2 separate regions of the Homo sapiens genome follow, and region 1 is linked to region 2. Evidence: fine-mapped expression QTL. Tissue or cell type: whole blood. Region 2 holds a variant in brackets; the other region holds the start of a gene. All regions are shown on one strand. Distances are between the middles of the regions.

Region 1 (9,224 bases), 23 kb after region 2:
CTGGCCTACAATCAAACATGCTTTGGCTAGTTAGAAGTGATGCTAAGGCTCCCAGATGAAAGTCAATTTAGAAAGACAAAAAAATCTTTAAAATAATGATAATAACAATATCAAAAGTCAAAGCACCAATACTGACCATAATTATGATGATTATTTTTTATCAACACTTTTTTTTTTTTTTCCTCTGTTGCCTAGGCTGGAGTACAGTGGCCCAGTCGTGGCTCACCACAACCTCCGCCTCCTGGGTTCAACCAATTCTCATACCTCAGCCTCCCAAGAAGCTGGGATTACAGGCATGTGCCACCAAGCCCAGCTAATTTTTGTATTTTTAGTAGAGGCAGGGCTTCACGATTTTGGCTGGGCTGGTCTTGAACTCCTGGCCTCAAGCAATCTGCGCACCTCAGCCTCCCAAAGTGCTGGGATTTCCGGTGTGAGCCACCACTCCCGGCCTTTATCAGCAGTTTACCTTGACATGCACTTTTCTAAGTTGCCCATATCATTTTGCATATATCACCTACTTATTCTGACAGAGTCTCAGCATTACATTTTCTAACAATACTATTTTGGAGGTAGGAGGGAGCTTTAAAGTTCTGATGAAAACCAGAAGCTTCTTGAGTTAAAAACAAAACCCTGAAGTGTGGTATTTTCCAACTTGGTTCTTGACAAGAAATTAGGGGATTTCAGTGTGAGAAATTATAAAGCCCTATTACTATGAATTCTTAGTTTTGGTGAATATGATGTGGTATTTCTGCAAAACTCTCTAAGGAGAGTGACAGAACATTCATGATGCTGACCCATGGGGAGAAAGGAGCTTGCACACCTGTGCTATGACAATTCTAAAACCTCAGGGATTAAAATACTCAACTAGTGTAAGAGCTGCCTGTGTGAGACTGTGTGCTCAGTCCACATCTGCTCATCATGGCTCAACAAGGCCAGGCTCAGATCTTTAGATGACCTAAGCTCTGAAAAGACTATAGTGCCTCAAATTTGAATTATTACTCCCATGTGAAATTAAAATAGAAAAAAATAACAAAATACAAAATTAAGGTTGAGAAAGCTCAACAAAGTCTAACTTTTCCCAGGCTGTCTCCTTTGATGCTTTTTTTGAAATGTCAAATATCAAAATATTTACAAAATGTGTGTTTGTACACAATCCTGCTTTGCTGATGTTGTCTGTGAGGTCACTCAGCATCCAGTGGTCACAGGGATCTATGGCTTTCTTTCAAACACAAAGTGTTGACAGTAGTGAAATTCTGGTACCTGATGTGGTGGTCTTACTCCCCTTCCTGTAGTAATATGCAGCTAGAAATTAGAAATCAGGAGGCTGGCCCCCTCCCCCAACCCTAACACCATTCATATGTCAACTACTGCATACTTAGTGCTTTGAGGAGTCATAACAGATGGTAGTTGAAATTAGCAAGCTGTGATTAGCCATTCTCCCACATGAATGGACCCTGATGTTGACTGAGACCTTTGGCTCTGCCCTTCCTGAAAGACTCTGTTAGGCTAGGACTTCCAGCAACACATCATCCCCATTTGGCTCCAGCTTTTGAAATCTGGCACATATTCTTAACTTATTCCTTCAACTGCACCCTTCTAGCAGGCACTGTATTCCCCATTCACCTGGTCTTTTTTTTTTTTTTTGGAGATGGAGTTTCTCTCTTGTTGCCCAGGCCGGAGTCCTGTGGTGTGATCTCGGTTCACTGCAACCTCTGCCTCCCAGGTTCAAGCAATTCCCCTGCCTCAGCCTCCCAAGTAGCTGGGATTATAGGTGTGCGCCACCCTGCTCGGCTAATTTTGTATTTTTTTTTAGTAGAGATGGGGTTTCACCATGTTGGTCAGGCTGGTCTTGAACTCCTGACCTCAAGTGATCCACCTGCCTCGGCCTCCCAAAGTGCAGGGATTATAGGCATGAGCCACCATGCCCAGCCCAACCTGGTCTTATCATTAGCTTATACCACTAGCCCAGCCAGCTCCCCGATCAATAGACACTTTCAGTTCCTAACAACTTGGAAAGACAGACTTTCAGAGGCTGAAGTATTTTTGCAGCAACTCATCTTGTTATTCTATTCCATTCCTCCTCAGCTCCATCCTAATGTAAGGGGACTGGGCAGAGGCTAGGCAGCCATAACAGGAGAGTAGGCCAGGCATCAGCCTCTGTCAGATATCTGAGAAGCTGTGGCAAATTGGCCAGTAACAGGTATCCCCACACAACAGACAATACATGCTCTTCAGGGTGTGGATGTGGGTGCCAGAAAGGTCAAGTCCAGGGGCAAAAGTCAATCAGAAACCAGAGTGTTTAGTCAGATATTGACAAAACTAGAGAACTAGGTACCAGGCACCTCAGGCAAAGACTTGAGTTCATTTTTATTTCACACCTTTAAGTCTGGGGCATCACAAGGCACCCATCATATGGTTTATATTTACGAATGAGGGGAATACTTCACCAACATCAACAATGGTTAGAAGGTTACATAAAATGTTAAACTTATTAAAAGTTCTCCAAACAGAGCTTACAACTTTACCACTTATTATTTCAGTAAATGTTTTGAAACTTTTCCTGAAAATAAAAAGCTAGACATATATATCACATCTTTTGGGGTAGCATTAATAGCCCCAGCCTGAGACTTTTTAGTCTACTTTTAAATGTTTCTCGGCTGGGCCCGGTGGCTCATGCCTGTTATCCTAGCACTTTGGGAGGCCAAGGTGGGTGGTGGATTGCTTGAGCCCAGGAGTTCAAGACCAGCCTGGGCAACATGGTGAAACCTTGTTTCTACAAAAAATACAAAAATTAGCCAGGCATGGTGACACATGCCTGTAGTCTCAGCTACTTGGGAGGATCGCTTGAGCCTGAGAAGTTGAGGCTGCAGTGAGCCATGATCGTGCCACTGCACTCCAGCCTGGGTGACAGAGTGAAACCCTGTCTCAAAGAAAAAAAAAGTTTCTCGGCTGGGCGCTATGGCTCATGTCTGTAATCTCAGCACTTTGGCAGGCCAAGGCCGGCAGATCACGAGGTCAAGAGATGGAGACCATCCTGGCCAACATGGTGAAACCCCATCTCTACTAAAAATACAAAAATTAGCTGGGTGTGGTGGTGCGTGCCTGCAGTCCCAGCTACTCAGGAGGCTGAGGCAGTAGAATCACTTGAACCTGGGAGGCAGAGGTTGCAGTGAACTGAGATCATGCCGATGCACTCCAGCCTGGCAACAGAGTGAGACTCTGCCTCAAAAAAAAAAAAAAAAAAAAAAAAAAGAAAGAAAGAAAAGAAAAGAAAAAACAGTTTAATAACTTGGTTTAAAGGTCTAACCTTCGGGAATTTTCACCCTGATCAAATGTCCCAAGACCTGGAGCAGATCCTGTAGGATACATTTCCAAAGCCTCCAGTAGCAGAGAAAACTACGAGCTAAGGAAGTCAAGAGCTTTCCTATAGACCACTGGGGCTCATAGTTGGGGGAGCAGAATTCTGTCACAATTCCAACTAATATGACTAGATCCAGGAAGAAGAGAAAGCCAGTATAGTCCTAGACCAAGAGGATCCTGAGAGGAAAAATAAGTAAAAGGAAATAAGGAAAATGTCCTTCATGGTTCACTGGCCATGGGCAACATGATGCTTAGGGTCATAATGGACAGAGGTGTTGAGAAATCTCATCCATTGCATCTTGCCCTCATGGCCAGATGTTACCTAAGAGTGTCAGTCAGGAAAACCTAAATGTGGATAATTGTTTACTTCTCCCACTGTTTCTATGCAACTTTATCCTTGAGTATCTCCAAGTTTCTTTTATGTGCTGTGCCAGAGAGAACTACCTCTTCTTCAGAAACCCCTCCAGAGCTGTCACTGCTAAGTGGCTGCTCCACCAAGGACTACATTTCCCAGACTCCTCTGTGGTTAGCTGTGGTCATGTGATGGAGTTTTAGCCAATGGAATGTGAGTAGAAGTAACACGCACCACTTCTAGGCAGAGCCCATAAAAAACTCCCATGTGCACTTTTTCATGCTCTTTTCTTACTGCACTGAGGAGTGGAGACACCCCTAGGCGACCTTGAAAACCACATGCTGCAGAAGGCAAAGCCCCTCTCTACCTGTGTCTCTGAATGAATGCATGAAAGACAGTTGCCCCACTGACCTGTACTGTTACATGAGCAAGAAATAAACTATTGTGTTTGAGCCATTATAGATTTGGGGTTCTATTATAACAATTAGCCTATCCTAATATCCTTTTTAATATAGCTGTAATCATTGTGTACAGAAATCTCTGTGCCCTTTCCCCTTTTCTTTGAATCTTACCACAAACTAAAAAAGGAGAATTGGGAGACTTAAATTTAAGTAGCTGTTGGGGACAAATGACACTTACCAAATTAGTGGTCACAACATTCAGATCTTAGAGCCAGAAGAACAGGACTACAGCAGAGCCTCACTTCAAGACAACCTAATATATTAAAGTAAAACAAAAAGTAAAACATAAGGCCTATAAAACAGATATTTTAGTGTGTGATAGTTAATTTCCAAAGGGAGTTGTCCATTTACAAAGGAATATGCCACTGTTTTCCAGTAAATGACAAGCTTCCTTACTGCCTTTAAAATGAGACTTACGCCTCCCCGCTCCCAGTCATTTTAACATAGAATTTCTGAAGAACAGATCTCCCCTGGTACGTCAGCTATACGAAGACTAGATGCTGACTCAGGGGATGACTTAGAAGCCGGGAAAATCAGGGTATGATTTCTATGCCTACGTGCTGTTCTCATGTATGTGTCAAAACTTTTCTCTTGGGAACTTAACTTTCTTGGGTAGGAACTTCCAGAGGTCGTGAAATTATAGGCTTTGTAAAGAACTATGAGTTTTTAGACAAAGTTAAAACAGACACATTGTGTCTTTGTGCTTAATATCATCCCAGATACGATGGCACAAGTAGGAATGAAAATAAGTCCTCTGTAAACAGGGCGATAAGATAATGGAGGTTCATACACAGAACAATCAGAAACGTGCTCAGTAAAGGCAGCACAATTATGTACATCTTTTTACCAGGGCTGTCATATTTTACCAGGTTAAGTGTGAAAATACCATTTGATGGCACAGGACACGTATTTGCCTAGAACAGGGTTTATTTTTATGTCTGATCGCTCAGTATAAGATCTAGGAAGCAAACAATCCAGAACTCTGAACAAACATTCTGACAGCCTGAAACGGAATACTCAGGTGAGGGGAGGAAGAGGAGGCAAAACAAGAGGGTTGACAGGGAAAGGCATCAGTTGGGCTGTTCTCCCCAGGGTTTCCGTCTTAGTATTGTTTTTTTTTTTTTTTTTTGCATTCTTTTCTGATCCTGTGGAGAGAGATATCAGATCCCTTTGGGGCCGTATTTAGAGGGTCTCCCAAATGCAGTCCCTACTCCCAACTCTGGGCTGGGGCTTGGCAAGCTGTAGGCGTCAGGGAACAAGATGGCGCCCTACGGTGAAGGGCGCTGAGTGAGGGGGGGCCAAAAGTGGGCCTTCACTTACTCGGAGGCGCTGGCTCCTCTGAAACCCAGACGCTGTCAACTCCCTGGGCCCAGGAGTCACAACCGCTTTCGTGCTCTGGGTTCTTCACTTCTTGTGATCAGCTCCACATATTTTTCTGATGATGTCACCCATTCTGACTTCCTACATTTTGAAAGTTGATCTACAAGTAAAATCTTTCGTGAGGCTTAAAAAAAAGAAGAAAAGAAATAAAAGGTGTGCTATAGGGAGATGGAGAGGAAGAGAAAGGCCGTTGCCTCTTTATTTTGAGATTTGCTGCAGCTGCGAGTGCCACTCCCCAACTAGTTTCCTGGCTTCAGAGGGAGGCCAGTGGCCGGGCGTGGGTGACGTCAGGGCCAGGCCTGAGTCATCGCCAGCAGCCCGGGCCGGGCTGCCCTGCCACTCGGAAGGGGACAAAAGGAACCTTTGATGTCCAGAGGCCCTCCTCTCAGCACACTCGCCGGCACAGACCAGCAGGCCAGGAGAACATTCCTGCCGTCTCCCCACCCCCAGCCGCCCTTCCTACTTCCGGAACAGCCCCAGACAGATTCAACAAGGCCTCCCCAAAGGACATCACCCTCCTGCATGGCAGAGGCATGGCCGTGCTCTGTCAGAGAAGCAGGGAAGAAGAAGAGGGTGTTTCCCTGGGGACCTCTCACTGCCCCTCTGCCATCCCCCTTCTTCTGTGTGGTGCCCACCTTACTCAAGGAGTTGCAGTGGTATTGAAAGAGATGCGGAAAGGTGGAAGGCACTTTTGTCACCATCCCCGGGCAGCTCCTGGTGGTCAGTGTCTATTCTCCTCTGCCTCTGTGCTGTGGCCCTGGGCTTCGCTCCCTACCCTGGGTGCCAACATGAACTAGCTCTTCCTGGATTTAAGACATGACCACTCTTTAAAGGGGATATTTATATCTCAGTGCCTGGCATGAGGCTTGGTAATTATATGATGAATTAAGGAATGATAATTGTAAAATAAAATAGTAGAGGACACATATTAAATACTTAGAGTGAACATTCAAGCCTCTGTGCTTTATGAAGATTATTTCATTTATTGGTATTATCACAACAAAAAAGCTGTGAGGTAGGTACTATTAATATTCCTAATGCTATAGAGAAAGAAATGGATGCTCAGAGAGGTTAAGACACTTCTCTAAAGCCTCACAGCTAGTTAGTTCATGGCAGAGCCTGGATCATCTAATCTCACATCCTGTTTTCTTAATCACGGTGCTGAGTGGCTGGAGTGAATGAAGGAATATTGACCAAGGGCAACCTGGCCAGGAGAAAAGAGACAAAGATGGGACTTGAAACCACATCCTACAAGGAAACAATGAAACAATTAGGAATGTTCTGGCAACATGGGCCTCATGCCTTCTTACTGCGTCAACACCAGGTCTGAGGTTTGGCAAGTGGGTGGCTTACTCAGCGTAGCCAGGAGGGCGAATCAGTCATCAGGTTCAAGTGGGGATGAGAAACTAGGGAGGTCGGATGGACGCAAGCCTGTGGCATGTGGTAGATGCAAAATCCGAGAGCCACGGGGTACAGAGTACCTCGGCGGGAGCCAGAGTCCACGCTTGTCTTTGTTGCCTTCTGGCCTCATGGATGTAGGTGGGAGGGTCAGTCCATCTGGGGTGGACAAGAAGGCTACAGGAAGAAGGACATGACGGCACTCTCAAAGATTCCAGACTCAGAAAGAGTTGGAACTGTGGTGTGGTTTTAGAGTGCAGGAGGAGTGAGAAGGGATTGGGAACAGATCTGGACCTGACAATGGTAGTTACTTTCTACTCTTAGCGCCCTCCTACCAGGAATCAGCTGCCTTTCTGGGCCTGAGGAAGAGTCCTGGCAATGGCTGTGGGCAAGCAAAGGCGAGGAGGGGTGGTGAGAAGAGAACATCTGCTTATCGGGGTATCTGGGCCCAGCATAAGAATGACCTACGAGGTAGCTTCTCCCTCTGTGGTTTATGATTCTGTGGTTTGTACTTTTCCATGATTCTCTTAGAGTAAATGTCTCATTCCAAGAGGAAGACAAAACCAGGAATTTCCAGCCCCTTGTGGAGGCCTCCTTGATAACACACCCACAGCTTTCCTTCCCACTGTGGGTGGGGTGTCAGGTCACAGAGACCACTCTCCCTGACTCAGGCAATCTATGCCTCTGATGCCTGGGACATTGTGTAGTTCTACCTTGTTCCTGGGAGCTCTGCCAGTTGCCACTCTGAGGAATTGCACTTGTTCCATGTAGTTTGAATCCCTAGGCAGGTGGAATTTATAGAGGTGAATTTCACAAGAGAGAAAGCTACATGCTTTTAATCAAGGGAGCAGCAGCAACTGATCAGGTTCACTGTCAGTGTCTGCACACAGCCTGATCTTGGGCTGAGGAAATCGCTTTAAGTTCCAGGCATTTTTGGCAGAAGACTTGTTTATTCTTTTCTTCCTTCTCTGCAGAAAATGCCTCTGGGCACCTCCCTGCTCTGTTTCCCCAAAGACTCAGTGGCCTTGCTTGCTTCATATACACAGGTATTTATTTCTCTAATAAGATGAACAGAGGCTGATTATTTCTTCACCCTGCATCCTATCAGGATAATGTGAACAGAAAAATAAAGAAAAGAAGCAGAAATGATCAGTAAGCTTAAGTGAGACACAGATTCTTGGGTTATATGCTCTGGGGTTGATACTAACAGTGAAAATAAAATCAGAGAACTGGGAAAAATATCCACTTGGAGATACAGAGAAGTAAGTACAATGGCACTTCCCTGGTCTCTACGTGAAGTGGAGCATCCTCCTCCTTTGCTACAACAAATGCAGTTAAATGCTGGTAATTAAAACCAAACCTTTATGAATGCAAGGAATTCCTTGGAAGACTTGTCTATACTTGTTGACTTAGATTTCTCTCATTTTATTCCCTCTCTTTAAAAAAAATTATTAAGGTATAATTTACATATCAGAAAGTTCACTCACTTAAAGTGTACAATTCAATGGGTTTTAGTGTATTTACAGAATTATGTAATTTGTAATCTATTTTTTTTTAACACTTTTTGTCACCACCCCAAAAAACACCATGCTTATTAGGTATCATTCTTCATTTGTCCCCACCTACCAGCCCTAGATGACCACTCATCTAGTTTCTGTCTCTATAGATTTTCCTCTTCTGGACATTTTCTACAAATGGAATCATACAATATATGGTTCAAATATTTGTCCTCTCCAAAACTCATGTTGAAATTTAATCTCCAATATGGCAGTACTGAGAGGTGGGGTCTTTCAGAGGTGGTTAATCCACTCATGGATTAATGGATTAATTGGTTAATGGATTAATGGGTTATCACAAGAGAGAGACTTGTGGCTTTATAAGAAGAGGAAGAGGGACCTGAGCTAGCACTCTCAGCCACCTTGCCATGTAATGTCCTGTGTCACCTTGGGACTTGGCAGAGAGTCCGCACCAGCAAGAAGGTCCTCACCAGATGTGATCCCTAGACTTTGGACTTCTCAGCCTTCATAACTGTAAGAAGTGAATTTCTTTTCTTTATAAATTACCCAGGTTCAAGTGTTCTGTTTAAGCAACAGCAAATGAACTAAGGCATAGAATACTTTAGTACTTCTTTCCTTTTTATGCCCAAATAATATTCCACTGTGTGGGTATACAACATTTTGTTTATCCAAATCTCAGTTGATGAACACTTGAGTTGTTTTCACTTTTTGGCTGTTATGAATAATGTTGCTATGAACATTCATGTGCAAGTTTTT
Region 2 (9,224 bases):
ATTAAAAGGGATACTCCAATGAACACGGAAATGATAAGAAAGCCTTATTGCTGATCTGGAGAAAGAATGAGTGGTCAGGATACAGGATCAAACGAGCCACAACATTCCCTTTAGCCGAAGCCTAATCCAGAGTGAGGCCCTAACTCTCCTCAATTCTAGGAAGACTAGGAGAGGTAAGGAAGCTGCAGAAGAAAAATGTGGAGCAAGCAGAGGTTGGTTCATGAAGTGTGAAAAAGAAGCTGTCTCCATAACATAAAAGTGCAAAGTGAAGTAAGTGCTGATGTGGATGCTACAGCAAGTTATCCAGAAGATCTAGCTAAGACAATTGATGAAGGTGGCTACATTAAACAACAGATTTCCTATGTAGACAAAACAGCCTTCTATTGGAAGGAGATGTCACCTAGGACTTTCATAAATAGAGAGGAGAAATCAATGCCTGGCTTCAAAACTTCAATTAGGGGCTTATGAAGCTGGTGACTTTAAGTTGAAGCCAGTGCCCATTGACCATTATGAAAATCCTAGGACCTTTAAGAATTATGCTGAATCTACTCTGCCTGTACTCTATTAATGGAACAACAATGACTAGATGACAGCAGATCTAGTTTAGTGAATATTTTAAGCCCACTGTTGAGACCTACTGCTCAGAGAAAAGATTTCTTTCAAAATATTACTGCTCATTGACAATATACCTGGTCACCCAAGAACTGTGATGGACATGTACAAGGAGATAAATGTTGTTTTCATGCCTGCTAACACAACATCCATTCTGTAGTCCTGATCAAAGAATAATTTTGACTTTCAAGTCTTATTAAAAATATATTTCATAAGGCTATAACTGCCATAGACAGTGATTGCTCTGATGGATCTGGGCAAAGCAAATTGAAAACCTTTGGGAAAGGATTCACCATTCTAGATGCCATTAAGAACATTCATGATTAATGGAAGGAGGTCAAAATATCAACATTACCAGGAGTTTGGAAGATGTTGGTTCCAACCCTCATGGATGACTTTGAGAGATTCAAGACTTCAGTGGAGGAAGTAACTGCAGATGTGGTGGAAATAGCATAAGAACTAGAAGTGGAGCCTAAAGATGAGACTGAATTTCTGCAATCTTATTATAAAACTTGATCAGATGAGGAGTTGCTTCTTATGGATGAGCAAAGAAACTGGTTTCTTGAGGTGGAATCTATTCCAGGTGAAGACACTGTGAACCTTGTTGAAATGACAACAAAGGATATATGATATTACATAAATTTAGTTGATGAAGCAAGGACAAAGTTTCAGAAGACTGACTCTACTTTTGAAAGAAATTTCTACTGTGGGTAAAATGCTATCAAACAGTGCCACAAACTAAAGAGAAATCTTTTGTGAAAGTCAATAAATGCAGTAAACTTCACTGTTGTTTTATTTTAAGAAATCGCCACCCCAACCTTCAGCAACACAACACTGATTAGTCAGCAGCCTTCAACATCCAGGCAAGACCCTCCATCTGCAGACAGATTATGACTTGCTGAAGGCTCAGACATCAGTAGCATATTTTAGCAACAAATTATTTTTAAACTAAGGTATATACATTTTTAAGGCATAATGGTACTACACACTTAATAGACTACAGTATAATGCAAACACAACTTTTATATGCACCGGGAAACTAAAAAGTTTGTGCACCTTGCTTTATTGCAACATTCGCTTTATTGAAGTAGCCTGGAACCGAACCTGTGACATCTGAGGTATGCCAGTATTTCATGATGTGAAAATTATATGAAATGCAGATTTTAGAGTTTATAAGTGAAGTTTTGAGACACAGTCACATTCATTCATTTCTGTATCTGTGAATGATAGTATATCATTATTACTATACTTAATATTATATATTATTGTATTTTGAATTTCATAATACAAAATTTATGAAAATTTGCTTTGTCACTTGTTATATAAATACCTACGAAGTATCTTCAGTTTTGTCTTGACCCACTGTTAAACTAAATGTATAGAAGGCCATTGATTTAGACTGGCTCCTGCACTAAGCCCCAAGAGACCAAACCAAAATGGAGTCACTCACGCTAAAGTTCCACATCACCAAACTGAAATGAAGTTGTTTATCCGACTTGAGAAATTAGGAGAGAGATAATAGGCCAATTTTAGCCAGAATGATAAAGCAGTCCCCTCTGCTTTAACCTTTATAAGGAAAATTACCTGCAGTAACCTGATGTTAACCAATCTGCTTTTTGTATTATGTTATTTCCTTGTTCCTGCCTAAGCTACCTTATAAAAACCAATTGTTCTGCCATGCCCAACAGAATACCTTCCTATTTGTTATAGATAGCGTGCTGCCTGATTCACGAATTGCTAATAAAAACCAAGTAGATCTTTAAACTCAATTTGTTGAAAATTTGTTTTTTCATGCCATAAAGCCTAAAGTATTTGCTGTCTGATTCTTTACAGAAAAAGTTTGTCAGCCTCTGGTTTAGAATTTGGGCTTTCCCTGTGACCTCAAGGCAGCTTTAGTCAAAAGAGCACTGGTCTAGGAGTCATGCCTGGTTTCATTCCACCACTTAACTCTCCGAGAGACCTTAAGAAGTCCCATCTTCTCTGGGCCATGATTCCCTCAAAGATAGAGTATAGAGTCTAAAATCAATAAGGCAACAGAAACGTGTAGTTCAGATTCCCATAAGAGCTTAGCAGGAAGTACAGGGATGATGCAGTGCTAAATGCTGGTATGCCAGCCAGGTGTGGTTCTCCTGGAGACCAAGCGATTCAAACAATCAGAATATCCTTTGAGGATGGCTCCACAGGCACTCAGACTAGGGGCTGGATAGGCTGGTGAAGGAAGGAAGAGGAAGGCTCTGGGGGCTCCCAGAGCAAACTAGCATGCCTGCAGTGGGCAACCTGACTTTGGGGAAAATAATTTCTAAAATCTGCAGTGTACAGCAAGTATTTTGGGTAGGTCTTCAGTCTGTGCTTTGTAGATGACCAAAAGCACTTGATCACATAGCATGAATAAAAAGTCTGCTTATTTCATTTAATGTTTAATTCAGATCTAGTACAGTGATGGGGAGGAGGGTGGTAGGGGGTGGTGAGGAGTGGTGGTAAGGGGACCCTCTGGCATCCTCAGCATGTAGAATAGGAGACTTGGGAGAGAAATGGAAAGTTCAGGCTGGGCGCGGTGGCTCACGCCTGTAATCCCAGCACTTTGGGAGGCTGAGGCGGGCGGATCGCGAGGTCAACAGATTGAGACCATCCTGGCCAACATGGTGAAACCCCGTCTGTACTAAAAAAAATAAATACAAAAATTAGATGGGCATGGTGGTGCATGCCTGTAGTCCCAGCTACTCAGGAGGCTGAGGCAGAAGAATCACTTGAACCCAAGAGGCGGAGGTTGCAGTGACCTGAGATTGCGTCACTGCACTCCAGCCTGGCAACAGAACAAGACTCCGTTTCAAAAAAAAAAAAGAAAGAAAAGAAAGAAAGAAAAAAAAAAGAAATGGAAAGTTCTTATGACTCTGTAGTAAATAAATCACCTTTAAGGACATCAATCTGTAGGCGCTTCACAATCGCCAACGTGGGGCCATTAAGTAGCAAGGCCAACATTATGAGCGAAGCCAGAGAGTACATCATAGCACCCAGTCTGTATGCCGTAGGCCTGCAACCTGCATTTAAGGTCTCTCCTGAGCCTTCTTTTTCTAGTTGCAACCCCTTCCCACTTTCTCCCTGGTACCTTGTTCCCCCAGCTCCATGGCGCAGCAGAGCGGCATCTCCTTTTGTCCCCCTGGCTGCCTCCTGACTGCTTCCTTTGTTCCCTCTTTCTTATCTTCTGCATCCTCACCCTGCCCCCATGCTGCCCTCTCTATCTACAGCCAGCTCCCCATTTTGCTTCCCAGATGACCACCCCATTCTCTTCCGCACTGTTCCCCAGTACCCTGAGTACTTCAGAGAATCTTTCCATGGTGTAGTTCCTTCCTTTCCCTGCTCCAGGTTCCTCTCTTCCCTTCCTCAGTTCAAGAAACAAGAGAAAAGGAAAAAAAAATGACAAGGGCACTGCCCTTCTGGGATTTAACCACACTCTCAGCTGGTGGCTTTTGTTTTCTGGCTTCACTGGCTTGTAAGGCCCTCAGGGCAGGGACTCTACGTCATGCTCAGCGCT[G/A]GGGAAGGTCGGCAGGACTGTCAGGCCTTAATTAGAGCAAGGCCTCAGACAGGGTGGGAGATTTTAGCAAGCAAGAGGAAAAGAAATTTCAAAATATCCATTTGGCAGCAATGACCACAGAGTAAGGAAGAGGATTGTTTTATTGTAGAAAGCATATAATGAAAGCCTCCACTGCTTTTCATGAGCACAGAAAGAATATTTACACTGGCAATTTTCAAACCAAACAGCACCAGAAAACAAACTCCCTCCACAGGCCAAACATAGGGAGTGTTCAGTCTTGAACCCTGAGCAGGAATTGCTGCAGAAGCAAGGAGAACATTAAGGGGGAAAAAGTGCAAAATGAGTTATGAGATCAAAAGAGCAATTTTCTGGTCAATGAGACATTTAGGCTAAGGCAGTGGCATGCTGGGATCACCTAACAAAGACAATTGATTTTGCAACTGGTCTCTGATTTACCTGCTGCCCGGAAAGCCTTCTGCAGAACAGCCAGCATGGAGACCCCCCACTGTCAACCAGGGAAGGTAAGAAAGCAAAAACATCTTGCCTACATCACAAATTCAAATTTTTGCATTTGAGGGCTTCTCAACTTAACATCTGCTCATGAATGCAAAAGTGGCAGCCGTTATTGAGGTCACCTGGCAATGCAGGCGGACCAGCTTGAAGAAGGGCAGCCAGACATACGGTGGCTTATTAGGAGCCAAGACATCTCGGGAAGGTGGTGAGGTCAAGACACAAAGTCCAAGTGAAGAACTGTCCTTGTCATCAGCTGAAATGCCCCAAACTGAGGGATGGCCTCTAGCGAACAGTATAAAAGGCCATTAAGAGAACAGCATGCCATTTATTTCTTCCTGGAACAGGGAGGATACACAATTGTACTTGTCCATACAATGCTCTACCCTTGTGTGGGAACCTGGACTGCAGTTTCATAGGGGGACTATGTCATATTTCATTCTGCTTGGCTTATAGCAGTGTTTGGCACATAGCAGATGCTCAACAAATGCTCAAAGAAGTAAACTGAATTGTTGCAGTCCCCTTCCCCACTAATGGGCAGAGAGCCCCTTTACCACCAGCCCCCTTCCCCACTCTACTACAAAGGAACCGAACAAGCTTGTCTTCATGTTGTGGAATGTTTCAGGGCCTCTCAAAACCCAACGAAGTATAACATGCCAGCCAGGCCGCCTCTACTGTGATAAGCAAAGTCAGCTAAGTAATGAATCAATTTTAGACGGTGCTTCTGAAATGTTTAGAAGGCTCAAAAGAGCCTTATAGTTTCTAACTCACATAGCAAACTTCTCCCTTTGTTCCCTGACCTTTGTCAACAGAATAACCTGAAAAGCATGAAAGAGTTCTGGTTCTTAAGAAGAATTTTTTAAAGAATGACTTGCTCTAATAGAGGAAAAAAAACCTCACTAGTTCTTTAGAAAGCCACCAACAGGCAAAGATGTGTGCAGAGCTGAAGCGTTTTAGCAAAACCTGAAAAAAACTTCACTCTGATGGGAGGCATTTTAGGACTAAGACAATCTACTGGCCAGATGAGATGAGATGAGACAAACCCTTCCACCATTTTGCCTTTGAAAAAAATTCAATGACTATCTCAATGTTTTGCCATTGGTTTAAATTCCAGAATTCTTATGAAAAATAAAGCAAGAGGCTTCTCAGAAATTTCTCTACTCTGAGAGGTCTTTCTTCTGTGCATTTCTTGGGTTGACACTGAATCTGTGCCAGAATTTCATCACCACCTAGCACTGCAATGTACTCTACCTTCTGAAGCAGTTTCAGGGTCGTGACGGGGTCAAAGGCAATGACCCCATGAGTACCAGACTCTGGGAGTTTGACTGGCTAAAACCAGTCACAGGGACCTGGGCCATCCTCTTACTGTAGGGGAAGCTTACCTAAGTTAAGCCTCAGTCCTTGAAACTGTCAGACCTGGCTCTGAGATAGCAACATTTACACAAAGAAAGGAAAGTTTGAAGGCTGAGCATGAGCACTCCTCTCCTGGTAATGCCCCACGTCAGATCTTCACCTGACTAGATCCTTCTCAGCACACGATCTTCACTTAAATGCTACATCCTCAGAACATTCTGATCAACCATTTTAAAGTGGCTCTCCTCCCTAGAACCACATAACCCTCACTTATTTTATTTTTTTTAATTTTAATTTTTTTTTAGAGAAAGAGTCTTGCTTTTTTGCCCAGGCTGGAGTGCAGTAGTATGATTCTAGCTCACTGCAACCTCGAACTCCTGGGCTCAAGTAATACTCCTACCTCAGCCTCCGGCATAGCTAGGACTACAGGTGCACACCAGCCACCGTGTCCAGTTAATTTTTAAAATTTTTTGTGGAGATGGGGTCTTGCTATGTTGCCCAGGCTGGTCTCAAACTCCTGGTCTCAAGCAATCCTCCCGTCTTGGCTTCCCAAAGTGTTGGGGTTACAGGCATGAGCCACTGTGCCTGGCCCACTTTCATTTTAAAATTTTTAATTTTCCTCTGTGCACTTGCCTTCTTTATTTACATCTATATTTTTGCTTATTCCCCTCCCTGCAAGCACCCTCCCGTCCTCTGGAATATGCCTGGCATGTAGCAGATGCTCAATAAATGTGTTGACTGTTTATTTACCAAGAGAGCTGTTAAGAACAGGATTTCCCTTGGAAAGGAGCTGTTAGAATGAACCACATGGTACCAGGAACTTAAAGACTTAGCATGACCTAGTACTAAAGAGAAAGTGCTAGATCTCTTTCTAGATTCTTCTCACATAACAGTGAAGAGGCTCTAAGTCATAGTCTGATTCCCAGTCCATCTCCGGGGGATCCATGGAAATGGATGGGGTAGATCAATACCACTCTAGTATTATGGCAAGAGATGCAATCTTGGTATTATAGTATTATAAATATTATAGTATTTTATATTATAAATCATTCCAACAGAAAACCACATATTTGCCCATTTTGTTTTGGTGAGAACAGTGCAATTGTTTGCACAGTCTTGCTGTCACACCTGCTCTGGCCTGCCCAGTAAAAATACCGGAGCCAAAAAGTGTAAATGGGTTCAGGATAGCTTTTCAAACAATGAGATGGGGTAAGTGCCATCCTCTACAATCATCAAGAAGCATTTTCAGCTAATCTTGGAAATTCAATAATAATTGTAAATGGGTAAGTTTAGGAAAGCTTTGTGCCTTGTCAAGATTGCTGTGAAATATGAAGGCAAAGTATTAAGGTGAAACACAACGAAGTAATATATAGTAATTATTATTCTATTCACTGGTTTATTTATTAGAATGACGATGGTACGATACACTTCCCAACAATCTTATTTGGCTTTCTAGATCCTTGAATTGGGTTTAAAATTCTTTTAGGCAAGACTAAGAGCAACATAAGTGAATAATGCCACAAAAAAACGCCATTAAGTATGAAAATCTACAAGATGACGCAACCATGCTTGAGTCACAAACAAAAGAATCGACATTCTATAAAGAAGAAATACACTGTTGAATCTATCAGGCATTCATTTTAATGGTAAAACAATTGCATTGCATCCATCTAATCTTGTAATTAAGATTCAAATAGGTGCAAAATGATTACTTTGTACTGGCCTATCAAAATAGAAGACATTGTAGTTATAAGCTTTCTGACTAGCAGTAGTGTTTTAATTATAAATGCCTGGCTCATTATTTGCTCAAGAGCGAATGACAATTAGCTTGATCCTATTGCAACTGTTAATGCTGTTGGTACTAAAAAAAATAGGCAATATTGAATCAGGTTTCTGATATTTCCCTTCAGTTTACAATCTTCTGATTGATACTATATTCAAAATGTACTTAGTCATTTAAAGTCACAGGCAAGAAGGAAAATGGCTCCCAACAGCCAAAAAAAAAAAAAAAAAAGGTGTTGCAGGAAGGGTATTTCATGGCAAGCCTGGAGAACAAAATCAGTATGAGATGAATCACGTTCCAAAATAATTGAACCAGAGAAAGACTCCAAGCAAAATATTTTAGTTGGCCACAAAACAACATGACAACAACCACCACCACCCTTCAGCCCATTAGAGAGGTTCAATTCTACGATAGTGCTATGGAATAGAATATTAGTTAAACTGCTAGAATAAAGCAGCCATTTACACAGATGGTTTTGAATCTCAATGTTCTTCACATTGAAGCAAACCTCGGGGAGGTTTCAGGTTTAGCACCATCTTCCTAACACACCTATAGAGATATTTCCACAAAGGTTCAGGGTGCACTTGTCATTGGAGGGGTAGGCTTGGATGTGGGTCCTTTTCTACCGACAGCACTGAGGTTACCAACGGAGGGATCAGGGAAGGCAAGAGTACAAGCATTTTCTGATTCTCAGAATTTCTGAAATACCTTTTGTTTCAGTGGCGCTGGTGAACTTGTGATAATGAAACTACACCTCTGTACACAAACCTTGACCTGCATTCTGGAGCATACTGCAAAGAAAACCTTAATTTTGAAAGTACTGAGCACAAAGGAGGGAGAGAAAAGCTGTCACTGTGCAAGCTTTCTCTATATGTTTAGAAACATGGCTTAATTTTTAAGGCTTGAAGACCGCATTAAAAACCATCTAAAACCAGTTCAGATTCTATATGAGAGGAAAAAGAACTGTAAATTTTTCATTAAACATTTGTTTCCTTTTTAAAGACATTCTTTTGCATATCTGTTATTACATGTTTAAATACGATTTGGTTACCAAGGAAACAGGTTCTGGCCCAGTGTTAAATTTGAAACTAAAATATATTTGAGAAGTTAAGTTCAAAAGAAAGAGCTCATGAAATTATTTTGAAAAGTGCCAGAACCACAGCTATATGGTCTGCAATGAACCATTCTAGGGGCTCGGTTTCATTTAGTGAAGCTCTATTTCTTTTAAGAGGGCCATCTATATTTAATATTTCCCTCTTTAAAAATTGTAACTCCTCATCCCCCCAAATTATATACATAATATAATGTATTCTTGTATATTACCTAAAATTAATTTTGGAAGCATATCAGTTTTTATTTTCATCTTTCATAAACACGTTTAAAGACCGCTTCTTAAAATTTAAATATTTTTAATGTTTCTTATTAAGCTTGTTT

The links.
Region 1: it holds the start of ZBTB38, and the variant in region 2 is fine-mapped to the expression of ZBTB38 in whole blood (TOPMed, PIP above 0.99).

What each region holds. Positions count from the first base shown.
Region 1 is chr3:141,365,074-141,374,297 of GRCh38, reverse strand. ZBTB38 (zinc finger and BTB domain containing 38) reads right to left here and starts at 5,794. Exons shown (of 6, transcript NM_001376113.1): 1 at 5,494-5,794; 2 at 4,352-4,426. RefSeq lists enhancers at 1,341-1,390, 4,668-5,443, 5,898-6,127, 5,193-6,392, 6,220-6,995 and 1 more.
Region 2 is chr3:141,388,247-141,397,470 of GRCh38, reverse strand. All of the region lies in intron 4 of ZBTB38 (zinc finger and BTB domain containing 38), which reads right to left. Among named protein-coding and RNA genes, the nearest start is that of ZBTB38, 24 kb to the right of the region's middle. RefSeq lists enhancers at 3,305-3,915, 3,916-4,525. The variant G/A (reference allele first, on the strand shown) is at 4,145.